3 linked regions of the Homo sapiens genome follow. The protein of the gene in region 3 purifies or fractionates together with the protein of the main gene of each other region. This does not show direct contact. Each region holds a gene or a part of one and is shown on either strand. Other genes may lie near its edges.

Evidence for each region.
Region 1: the proteins of PLAAT4 (region 3) and RNF135 purify together in Homo sapiens (affinity purification with western blotting, with the first as the bait; one study listed by BioGRID). This does not show direct contact.
Region 2: the proteins of PLAAT4 (region 3) and PLEKHG3 purify together in Homo sapiens (affinity purification with mass spectrometry; one large-scale study listed by BioGRID and IntAct). This does not show direct contact.

What each region holds. Positions count from the first base shown.
Region 1 is NC_000017.11:30,981,039-30,984,538, reverse strand, and holds part of RNF135 (E3 ubiquitin-protein ligase RNF135), read right to left. Parts: intron 1-3,500.
Region 2 is NC_000014.9:64,731,924-64,735,423, forward strand, and holds part of PLEKHG3 (pleckstrin homology domain-containing family G member 3), read left to right. Parts: intron 1-171; coding exon 172-258; intron 259-503; coding exon 504-537; intron 538-879; coding exon 880-978; intron 979-3,500. UniProt on the Homo sapiens protein: Plays a role in controlling cell polarity and cell motility by selectively binding newly polymerized actin and activating RAC1 and CDC42 to enhance local actin polymerization.
Region 3 is NC_000011.10:63,535,379-63,539,607, reverse strand, and holds the start of PLAAT4 (phospholipase A and acyltransferase 4), read right to left. Parts: upstream 2,801-4,229; 5' UTR 2,740-2,800; coding exon 2,731-2,739; intron 93-2,730; coding exon 1-92. UniProt on the Homo sapiens protein: Exhibits both phospholipase A1/2 and acyltransferase activities. Shows phospholipase A1 (PLA1) and A2 (PLA2), catalyzing the calcium-independent release of fatty acids from the sn-1 or sn-2 position of glycerophospholipids.

The DNA of each region.
Region 1 (3,500 bases), on a different chromosome or scaffold from region 3:
ATACTGTGGTAATGGCATAAAAACAGACATACAGACCGATGGAATACAATAGAGTACCCAGAAATAAACTCTCACATATATAGTTAAATGATTTTTGACGAAGGTGCCAAGACCATTCAATGGAGAAAGGACAGTTTTTTCAACAAATTGTACTGTGAAAACTGGATATCTATATGCAAAAGAATATGGCTGGACCCTTACCTAACATCATATACAAAAACTAACTCAAAATGGATCAAAGACCTAAATGTAAGACCTAAAATAATACAGCTGTTAGAAGAAAACATAGGGCAAAATTTATGACATTGGATTTGGCAATGATTTATTGTATATGTCACTAAAAGCACAGGCAACAAAAGAAAAAAGGAGACAAATTGGACTACATGAAATGTTTAAACATTTGTGCATCAAAAGACACGAACAATAGAGTAAAAAGGCAATCCACAAAAATGGAAGAAAATATTTGCAAGTCATACATCTGATAAGGCATTAATACTGAGAATATACAGAGAATTTCTAAAACTCAACAATAAAAACATATCACTGCCGCTTGTTTGGTTGGTAAAACAAACAAGCAAAAACCCACAAACAACTGAATTTTGAAATGGGCAAAGAACTTGAATAGCTATTTCTCCAAAGAAGATATACAAATCACCAATAAGCACATGAATAGACACTCAAGATCACTAATCACTAGGGAAATGCAAATCAAAACATACAGTGAGATACCACCTCACACTCATTAGGTTGGCTACTATCAAAAAAAAAAAAACCAAAATAACAAATGTTGATGGTGTGGGAAGATTGGAACCCTCTGCACTGTTGGTGGGAATGATATAGCCACTATGGAAGACAGAATGGTGGCTGCTCAAAATATTAAAAATAGGCCAGGCGCAATAGCTCATGGCTGTAATCCCAGCACTTTGGGAGGCCGAGGCGGGTGGATCACCTGAGGTCAAGAGTTCGAGATCATCCTGGCCAACCTGGTGAAACCCCATCTCTACTAAAAATACAAAAATTCACCAGGTGTGGTTGCAGGCACCTATAATCCCAGCTACTTGGGAGGCTGAAGCAAGAAAATCTCTTGAACCCAGGAGATGGAGGTTGCAGTGAGCCAAGATCATGCCACTGCATTCAAGCCTGGGCGACAGGGCCAGACTCCATCTCAAAAAAAAAAAAAAAAAATATATATATATATATATATATATATATATATATGTACATATATGTAATTAGAATTACCATATGATTTAGCAATTCCACTTCCGGATATATAAGAATTGAAAACAGGATCTCAAAGAGATTCATAAACTCATGCCCATAGCAGTATTATTCCCACTAGCTAAAACATGGAAGCAACCCAAGTATCTGCAGACAAATGAATGAATAAGCAAAAAGTGGCATATACATACAATAGAATACTACTCAGCCTTAAAAAGGAAGGGAACTCTGACACATGCTACAACATAAATAACCCTTGAAGACATTATGCTAAGTGAAATAAGCCAGTCACAAAAAGACAGATACTGTATGATTCAACTTATATGAGGTATTTAGAGTAGTCAAAATCAGAGACAGAAATTAGAATGATGGTTGCCAGAGGCTGGGGGAAGAGGAAATGGAGAATTTTAATGTCCTCCTAGAATTCCACTTTTGCGAGTTGAAAAGAGTTATGGTACCCTGAAGAACCAGTCATGTTAATTTAAAATTTTTTAAAGTTATGGAAATGATGGTAGTGATGGTTTCAAAACATTGTGAATGTATTTCATATCACCAAACTGTATACTTAAAAATGGTTTAGGGCCAGAGAGAAGTGGGGGAAAGCCAGAAGACTTAAGGGTGGAGAGGGCAGAGCAAGATAGCCAAATAGAAGGCTCCATTGATCATCCCTCCCACAAGAACACCAAATTTAACAACTACACAAAAAAGCACCTTCATAAGAACCAAAAATCAGGGGTACTTACAGTACCTGGTTTTAACTTTATATTACTGAAACAGGCACTGAAGAGGGTAGGAGAAACAGTCTTGAATTGCCAATGCAACCCATATCCCATGTGTCAGGGGCCACATGCACAGAGAATCTGTGCACTCAGGAAAGGGAGAGCATGGTGATAAAGAGAATAGAAAGACTTTGCCTTGTCGCTTCACAAAGCAAAACTGGGCTGAATTCAGCTGACGCCTACCCACAGAGGGAGCATTTAGATCAGTCCTAGCCAGAGAGGAATCAAATCACCCACCCCAGTTATTGGAACCTGAGTTCTGGCAAGCCTCTCCACTGTGGGCTGAAGTGCTCTGGGGCTCTAAATAAACTTGAAAGGCAGTCTAGGCCACAAGGACTGCAACTCCTAGGCAAGTCCTAGTGCTGAGATGGGTCTCTGGACCGGCCCCGAGCCTGGGTGAATGTGCCACCATGAAGGGAAGGACACAAGCCTGGCTGGCTTTGCCATCTGCTGATTATAGAGCCCTAGGTCCTTGAGTCAATATAGGTGGTAGCCAGATAGTGGTTAACAAGGGGCTTGGGTAAGGCACAGTGCTGTGTTGGCTTTAGGTCTGACCCTGTGCAGTTCTAGTGGTCATGGCCACAAGGTGCTTCTGTCACCCCACCTCCAGCTCCAGGCAGCTCAGCACACAGACAGACTGTTTTGGAGAACGTATGAGAAGAGAACAAGAATCTCTGCCTGGTAATCCAGATAATTCTTCTGGATCTTATACAAGACCACCAAGGTGGTACCTCTAGTAGTCTGCAAGAGTCACAGCTTTACTGGGCTTGGGGTGCCCCCTAATGCAGATACGGCTTAGATCACAACGCCCAAGTCCTTTCAAATTCCTGGAAAGCCTTCCCAAGAAGGACAGGTACAAACAAGCCCAGACTGTGAAGACTACAATAAATAACTAACTCTTCAATGCCCAGGCACTGACAAACATCCACGAGCATCAAGACCATTCAGGAAAACATGACCCCACCAAACTAACTAAATAAGTCACCAAGAGCCAATTCAGGAGAAACAGAAATATGTGACCTTTCAGACAGAGAATTCAAAATAGCTGATTTAAGAAAACTCGGAGACATTCAAGATAACAGAGAAGGAATTCAGAATTCTATCAGGTAAATTTAACAAAATGATTGAAATAATTAAAAATCGGTTAAGAGTCATCACCACGCTCTCCCTCTCCCTCTCCCTCTCCCTCCACGGTCTCCCTCTGATGCTGAGCCAAAGCTGGACGGTACTGCTGCCATCTCGGCTCACTGCAACCTCCCTGCCTGATTCTCCTGCCTCAGCCTGTCGAGTGCCTGCGATTGCAGGCGCGCGCCGCCACGCCTGACTGGTTTTCGTTTTTTTTTGGTGGAGACGGGGTTTCGCTGTGTTGGCCGGGCTGGTCTCCAGCTCCTAACCGCGAGTGATCCGCCAGCCTCGGCCTCCCGAGGTGCCGGGATTGCAGATGGAGTCTCGTTCACTCAGTGCTCAATGGTGCCCAGGCTGGAGTGCAGTGGCGTGATC
Region 2 (3,500 bases), on a different chromosome or scaffold from region 3:
GGCAAGGATCATTGCAGGCACCTCTCAGGGTCAAAGTGAGGAGTCAGGTTAACCTCACAGAGGCCCCAGCATGGCCCCACTTTTTCTCCCTGGGTGGAAGCACTGTCCATGCTAGACAGCTTCAGGCCTGTAATGATAACCACTGGGTCCCTTTCCCTTGGGTCCTCCCAGGCCAAGACAGTGGAGGAGAAACGGAACTGGACTCACCACATCAAGAGGCTCATCCTAGAGAACCACCATGCCACCATTCCCCAGAAGGTGAGTTCCCCCAGCTCCTGACTGTGTGCAAGGAGAATGTGCTCCTCTGAGCCAGCTCTGCAAGGTCCATTGGGGGCTCACCTTCTGGATTTGGGCTCCAGTGGACAGTGAGTGTCAGTACAGCAGATGCCCCGGGCCTTGGTGCAGCACTGTGGGGTGTCCTCGTACAGCAACAGTGGGTCCTATGGGCAGGGAAGGCCGGCACATGGTAAGGTAATAACCAGGTGTGTTTCCTTCCCCTTCAGGCCAAGGAAGCCATCTTGGAAATGGATTCCTATTGTAAGTGTACCCTTTTCTGCCTGTTTTGTCCCTAATCGTGCACATTGCTAGGTCAGGCTGCATCCTGGGGAAGCTTTACCTGATAATTTTATTCCAGGAGCAGGGAGGGCGGGGGTCTCCTGTTAAGGGCTGGGGGGTGAACTACATGATTAAGGATGCTCTCCTGCTGAGCGGTGGGACTCTCAGTGCCTGAAGCTCCCAGCTGGAAGATGGAGGGAGCTCTGGAGGCTCCTGGCCCTGGAGCTGGGTGGGTATAGAGGTCTGGCTGGTTATGGACAGGGTCTAGGGTAGGCCAAGGCCAATTGGGAATCAAAAGCTTGATCGTCTCTCTCCTGGGTGCAGATCCCAATCGGTACCGCTGCAGCCCAGAGCGGCTGAAGAAGGCTTGGTCCTCCCAGGATGAGGTGTCCACCAATGTGCGCCAGGGGCGCCGGCAATCTGGTAAGAGAAGGGCTGTGGAGGCAGGAGGCCTCTCCCTCACACCCTTGCCCAGACTGGGGACCGTCTGCGGCAGTGTCCAGGGCTGTGGCTCTCACCTCTGCGGAAACCCTGGGAAAGGCTAGAGCGGGGCTGGACACACACCTGGGGCTCATCCTCTCCCTGTGCTGGTGCTCCCCACACCAGGTACCCCTGGGCCCTCGTTGCCTACCAGGTCTGGAGCCCACCTTTTTCTTACTTTTTTCTTTTCTTTTCTTTTCTTTTTCTTTTTTTTTTTTTTTTGAGAGATGGAGTCTTGCTCTGTTGCCCAGGCTGGAGTGCAGTGGCTCGATCTCGGCTCACTGCAACCTCTGCCTCCTGGGTTCAAGCGATTCTCCTGCCTCAGCTTGCCAAGTAGCTGGGACTACAAGCGTGCACCACCACACCCAACTAATTTTTGTATTTTTTAGTAGAGATGGGATTTCACTATATGTTGGCCAGGCTAGTTTCGAACTCCTGGCCTCAGGTGATCCGCCCGTCTCGGACTCCCAAAGTACTGGGATTATAGGTGTGAGCCACTGTACCCGTCCAGCCCACCTTTTTCAAGGCCCTAGGAATACTTGCTCGCTCCGGCCTTGGCACCCCTTCTTAGCCCCCTCCCTCCTTTGCCTCTCTGGAATACCAACACCAAGTCATTCAGGAGTGACACTTGGACATGGCGGATGGGCCCAGCCCAGTCCTGGAACAACCGAGCAGAAGCAGGACCCGGGGAAAACGAGTTCAGTGGCACCAAACCCAGACAGGAAATATTTATTTTGGGTCTCAGGAAAAGGTTCCATTTTCCTCCCTTGAGTTTTCTTCCATTCCTGGACTTGCTAGGGTGTTCTTGGATTATTGGAATGAATCGTCTATTTGAAAAGAGAAAACCTTGCTTTTATTCTAAACTCCGTGGTGATGGGTGTGTGTGTTTTCAAAATTGGTTTTTTCGTTGCTATTTAGTGCAAGGCCCAAGGACAGGTCTGGCTTAAGCCAGGTGTCTGCCAAACATATACCCAAGGTGGGAGTTGGGGTGAGAATTGTCTTTAAGACCCTGGGAGAGAAGGATTCTAAAGTGACTGAGAGTGGTGTCCTGGCTTGGGTCCCACAGATGTGTTGGGTTTTGATTGGTGATGACCTGTGGGTCCCCTGAATGTGTGTGTGGATTGACATGTGGGTGTTAGCCTTCGAGAAGGTGGAGCAGTGGCTTATAGAAGGCTTTTGTGGTTTTATGTTGTTGGTATTGCTCTGGGTGGATCTTGAGCCCTAGGCCACCTTGCTATGGTTGCAAAAGTTTTATGGTTTTTATAGTTAAAAGCTCCAAATAGGGGTGTTGCTTTCTTCTCTCTAGCCCTCTTTCTTTTCTCTTCTCTTCTCTTTTCTTTTCTTCTCCTGTAATTCTCTTCTTGTCCTCCTCAACTTGCCATACCTTAAAATTTGAAGCTTCTAGCACACTGATGTGTTCAGCAAGTGATAACGTTGGTGGTAGTGATAGTAGCTCTATCCTAGTGTTAGCATCGAAACTTTAGCTATGGATGTACAACTCTTTGAATATACTTAAAGCCGTTGAATTGTACACTCTAAATAGGTGAATTGTATTTGAATTATATTTCAATAAAGCTGTTACAAAAAGCCCCCAAACTTTAGGTGTCCAAGGCACTCAGGAAATGAGCCATTTTAAAGAGCTGAAGTTTCCACATGGCTGAGATTTTTAGCCTGTAAATACTAAGAGTTGGATTTTTTCAAAAAATATTTAAAAAATGTTTTAACAGTTATGAAATTCCCTCCCTCCCTCCCTCCCTTCCTTCCTTCCTTCTTTCCTTCCTTCCTTCCTTCCTTGTCTGTCACCCAGGCTGGAGTGCAGTGGCACCATCTCTACTCACTGCAACCTCTGCCTCCCGGGTTCAAGTGATTCTCCTGCCTCAGCCGCCCGAGTAGCTGGGATTACAGGCACGCGTCACCACGCCCAGCTAGTTTTTTTTTTGTATTTTTAGTAGAAACAGGGTTTCACCATGTTGGTCAGGCTGGTCTCGAACTCCTGACCTCAGGTGATCCACCCGCCTCGGCCTCACAGAGTGCTGGGATTACAGGCATGAGCCATCCCGCCTAGCTGAAATAGACATCTTTCTAAAGCATGTTTTGTACTCTTGAGCCTTTTAAAACAGAAGGTGCTGGCCACCGTTGAACCTTTCCTTTTCTGGAGTTAATGCTACAGCATCACTTAGGGTGTGTGAACTGCCAGATGCTTGAGGGGCCCCAGAGGCTGTGGGTTGCCATAGAGACAGCCTGTGTTTGGTGTGTCGTGCCCCTCTTCACGGTTCTTCTGTAACACTGAAGTATTTGTTTTCATTGGTCTAAGTATGCTTGTCTGTAGTAGCCCTTCTTCCCCTCCTGTCTGTTAGAAAGCGATCGTTCAGGCCAGGTGTGGTGGCTCACTCCTGTAATCCTAGCACCTTGGGAGGCTGAGGTGGGAGGATCACTTGAGTCCAGGAGTTCAAGACCAGCCTGGA
Region 3 (4,229 bases):
ATCACGTAGCCATCTCCTATATACAGGGCCCAGTGCTCATAGCCAAGGCGGAAAATCTCAATCAGGTCTCCAGGTTTGGGCTCTTGGTGTGGCTGCAACAGAAAAGCCAGAGATGGAGTACCCGGCCTTCTAGGCAACAGCAGAGACCCTGGCTGGGGGAGCTGCAGCTCATCCTGGAGACGCCTTGCTGATGTTCATCAGCTGCTAGCCCCATGAGATCCTCAGCCCTGCTGTCACTTTCAGAGGCTCTTCTCAGTGGGGGCACTGGGGGCTGGAAGCCTGGAGAATGATCTTGTGGGATGGGAGACAGAAGGACCGTCTGGGCGCATGTGTGACATGTGTGTGCTGTGTGTGTGCATGCTGAGGATGCAGATGTGTGTGCATGTGTGCATTGTACACATGCTCCTCAGTAGGCCGACTCAAGAGCCTGCATGAACCAGCACCTTCACTGAGGCCAGGAGCAAGGCTGGGAAGGTGAGTCTTGAGCTCTCCGCCCTCTGCAGACTGACCCTCAGTTCCTCATCACTCCTGCCCTGTGCCTCTCCATGGCCCCAAGAGCCACCTCCTCCTCAGACCTTGCCCCATCCAGCCTCAGGACACCTATCTCTTGGAGATGACACCCTGGGAGACAGGAGCTCACAGCATCCTGCTGGGACCTGAGTGGGGTCTTGTGGGGCCCCCCAGCTCCCAGCACTGAGGGGGCTCTGCACTCACAGAACAGGCCTCTGTGGGAACTTGTCCTACAATAACTGCACCATCTCCACAGCCCCAGGGGAAGGCATGATCATCCCATTGCACAGATGGGGAAACTGAGGATCAGAGAGGTGGCAGGGCTTTCCTGAGAACACTCAGCTGGAAGGAGGCCGAGCTGGTTCTTCCCTGCACACCCCTCACCCTGGTTCCTGTCTTGGCCACCTTCTTCCCCTTCCTCACCTCCTTCCCACTTCTCCATGTCCTGCCCCAGGGCATAGCAGCCTCATGACTGGAGGATTTTTCCATTTTCACCCTCTCTGTCCCTGTCCTCAGTGGGTGACAGCCTCCTCCTCCCTCATCCCAGGATGTCCCATCATAGACCTGGGGTCTGCTCTCCTTTGCCCTCTTCCTCATGCCAATATCCAGTCACTAAAACCAATCAATGTGGACTCCGGAAGCTTCTCCTTGTTGGTGTGCTTGTCAATATCCCATCCACTGACTTGGTTCAGGCAGCCCCATGCCTGCCTCTGTGACCCCCACAACCCCCTGACCAGCCCCTGCCTCCTGTCCCTGCCACTCCATATCCAACTCCTCAGAACCCATGGTGGCCTTCCCAAGGGCACATCTGGCCATGACCGTCCTCTGACCTCAGGGCCCAGGACACACCCTGTGGGCAGCTCCCAGGCCCTTCCTGACTGGCCCTTCCTCACCCTCCTCTCCCTCCCTGGGCTCTGCACCCACAGGCCCACTGAGTGACATCCCAGCCCCTCACTACTGCCCTGGCTCTGGTCTCTGCTGCTCTGCACATCTGGTTCTCCCTGCCTCCATCACTTCCCTGCAGCCACTCTTCCTCTTCCCCTCCCTCAAACCCCCTCACCTGAGAAGCTGCCCTGATGGCCCCAGCCTGGCTCAGCTGACCCGCCACCCCACTCCTAGGACCTGGGTCCCCGGGGGCCTCTGCTGCTCTCTGCAGGGGTCAAGTTGAGCTGCAATTCCCTGTGCCTCCCTGTGCCCCTCTGGGCTGTGAGCTCCAGGCAGGCAGGATCCTGTGTGCTCCTCCCTCCCTGCACCTCCAGGACCCAGTGAAGGGCCTGGCGTAGAATGGGGCAAGGAAATAGACAAGGAAGAGGGAGGAGAAAGGAGCAGGGCCAGGACTCCCTCCCAGCTCCTCCTCTGTATGTCAGGGCACCACAGGAGATGGTTTCCATGTGGGGAGAGAGAGGGGCTTTTAACTGCAATGCTGAATGTCTAAAACCACAGTCAAGGTACTGGCAACCTCAGCTGGTGGCCAGTGAGATATGAGCTTTGGCCTGGGCTCCCTGTTAAAAGCCCTGATTTGTTTTGGCAGCAGTAAAGCCCTTCCCCAGGATCAGGTGGTGCTGTTGGAGTGGGCTGCCCTCCAGAATTTGCAGGACTCCTTCCCGGAATGGTTTTGTTTCTAGTAATAGCCTGAGCCCCGCTGTTCCTTTTTAGTCACACACCACCGAGCTCAGCCTGCTCTCCCTAGAGCTTCTGCCAATCGGTACATCTGGGCTGATAGGAGGAGAAATTTCAGTTTTCAGAAAGCTGCTGAGATTAGAATGCACCTTAGAAGGCTGGATGATGCCACAGAGGAACGAGGAGAGAGAAAGCATCGTTTGGGGCCGAGAAGGGACTGAGCCCCAGTCACAGCAGAAGCAGACGATGTTGGGATTTGCTTGCTTCCCACAACCCAGAGTCCCCCACCTGCCCACACTCTGGCTTCTCCTCAGGCTGAGGTAGATTTGACACCCGGCACCCCACAGCTCTCTACTACATGGGAGTCCCGGGCTCCCCGCACTGTGCCAGTTACGCAGAGGAGGTGGACTCTGCCCAGAGGACTCCCTGTCCAGCTGGGCAGATGCACTTTTAAAAGACAAATACAGTTTTCCATGACAGCCTTCTAAAGACGAGCTCTGGAGCTGTGTGCCCAAGGCCAGGAGCCTGGACTGAGGCCTTTCCTAGGGGGAGCTGCCCAACTGCTGTAGAGTCAGTAATGCAAAGCCCTGGGAAACTTACCGAAGCCATCTCGAAGCCAAGAGGAGGTCTGGTGCTCCTCTTGTTTGTGGATCAGCTTTTATGCTGAAGGAGAGAATTTCACTTTCACTTTCCTTTTGACACTGTTTCAACCTCACTTAAATACTAAACACTGTTTAAAAGAGACAACTGTTTAAAAAGGAGCTATTTCTCTAGATGGAAGGACTAATCATTTCTTACACAAGCCATGGACTCATTGGTGCTTTAAAGCCACCTTGGGAGCAGCCAGAGTCGAAGGGGAGCCCTGAATTTCTGCCCTTGCTTGAGAAATAAAGGTCTTTTCTTTTTTTTTCTTTTTTGTTTGTTTGTTTGTTTGTTTGTTTGTTTTTTTGAGACAGAGTTTCGCTCTTGTCACCCAGACTGGAGTGCAATGGTGCGATCTCGGCTCATTGCAACCTCTGCCTCCCGGGTTCAAGTGATTCTCCTGCCTCAGCCTCCCAGGTAGCTGGGATTACAGGCACCTGCTGCCATGCCTGGCTCATTTTTCCATATTTAGTAGAGACGGGGTTTCACCATGTTGGCCAGGATGGTCTCGATCTCTTGACCTTGTGATCTGCCTCCCCGTCGGTCTCCCAAAATGCTGGGATTACAGGTGTGAGCCACCGCACCTGGCCAAAATAAAGGTCTCTTCTAAAAAGAACCCTGGGCAGCTCTTCCTACTCCAGGAAGGGGAGGCATTCGGAGGCAGGGAGATGTCAATCCCCAGTGCACCCCATAGGACATTGTCTTGTAAAGACACCCAGAAAATATTGGGCCAGAAGTCTTGGGAGAAGGCCAGAGGGGGTGTTTCATTCCATGGGGATGCCCTGGAGGTGAGGGGTACCTTAGACCATGTGGAGCCTGGGAGCTCATGGCCCCATTAAAATGCATTTGGGTGCAAGAAGCAGAACTAAACTCAAAAGGGCTTCAACAGCCTGGACACCCATTGTCTCGGTAACAGAAAGGCAGGAAGAGGGTGACTCAGGTTGGGTTTAGTGGCTCACCAAGGTCACCAAGGACTCAGCAGGCTGTCTCCATTGCACTGGTCCTGGGTCTGCACTGTTGCCCTGCAGGGACTCCCATGGCTGTAGCAGCCTTGAGTGGCCCATTTTTACCTGGCTATGCCCAAAAGATGGAGGGAAAGATAATTCTCATTTGTCTTTTTTTCAGGGAGTTAAGTCTTTCCCACAGTTCCCCAGATGACCTGTTCCCTTCTCCATTGGCCAGAACTGGGCCATATTTTCACACCCAACCAGAGGCCTAGACAGGTGGATCACTTGAGCCCACGAGTTCAAGACCAGCCTGGCCAACATGGCGAGACCCCGTCTCTGCTAAAAATACAGAAAAAAAAATTAGCCGGGCATGGTGGCATGTGCCTGTACTCTCAGCTACTTGGGAGGCGGAGATGGGAGGATCGCCTGAACCCAGAAGTCAGGCTGCAGTCAGCTGAGATTGCTCCACTGCAGTCTAGCCTGGGCAACTGGAGTGAAACCATGTCTCAA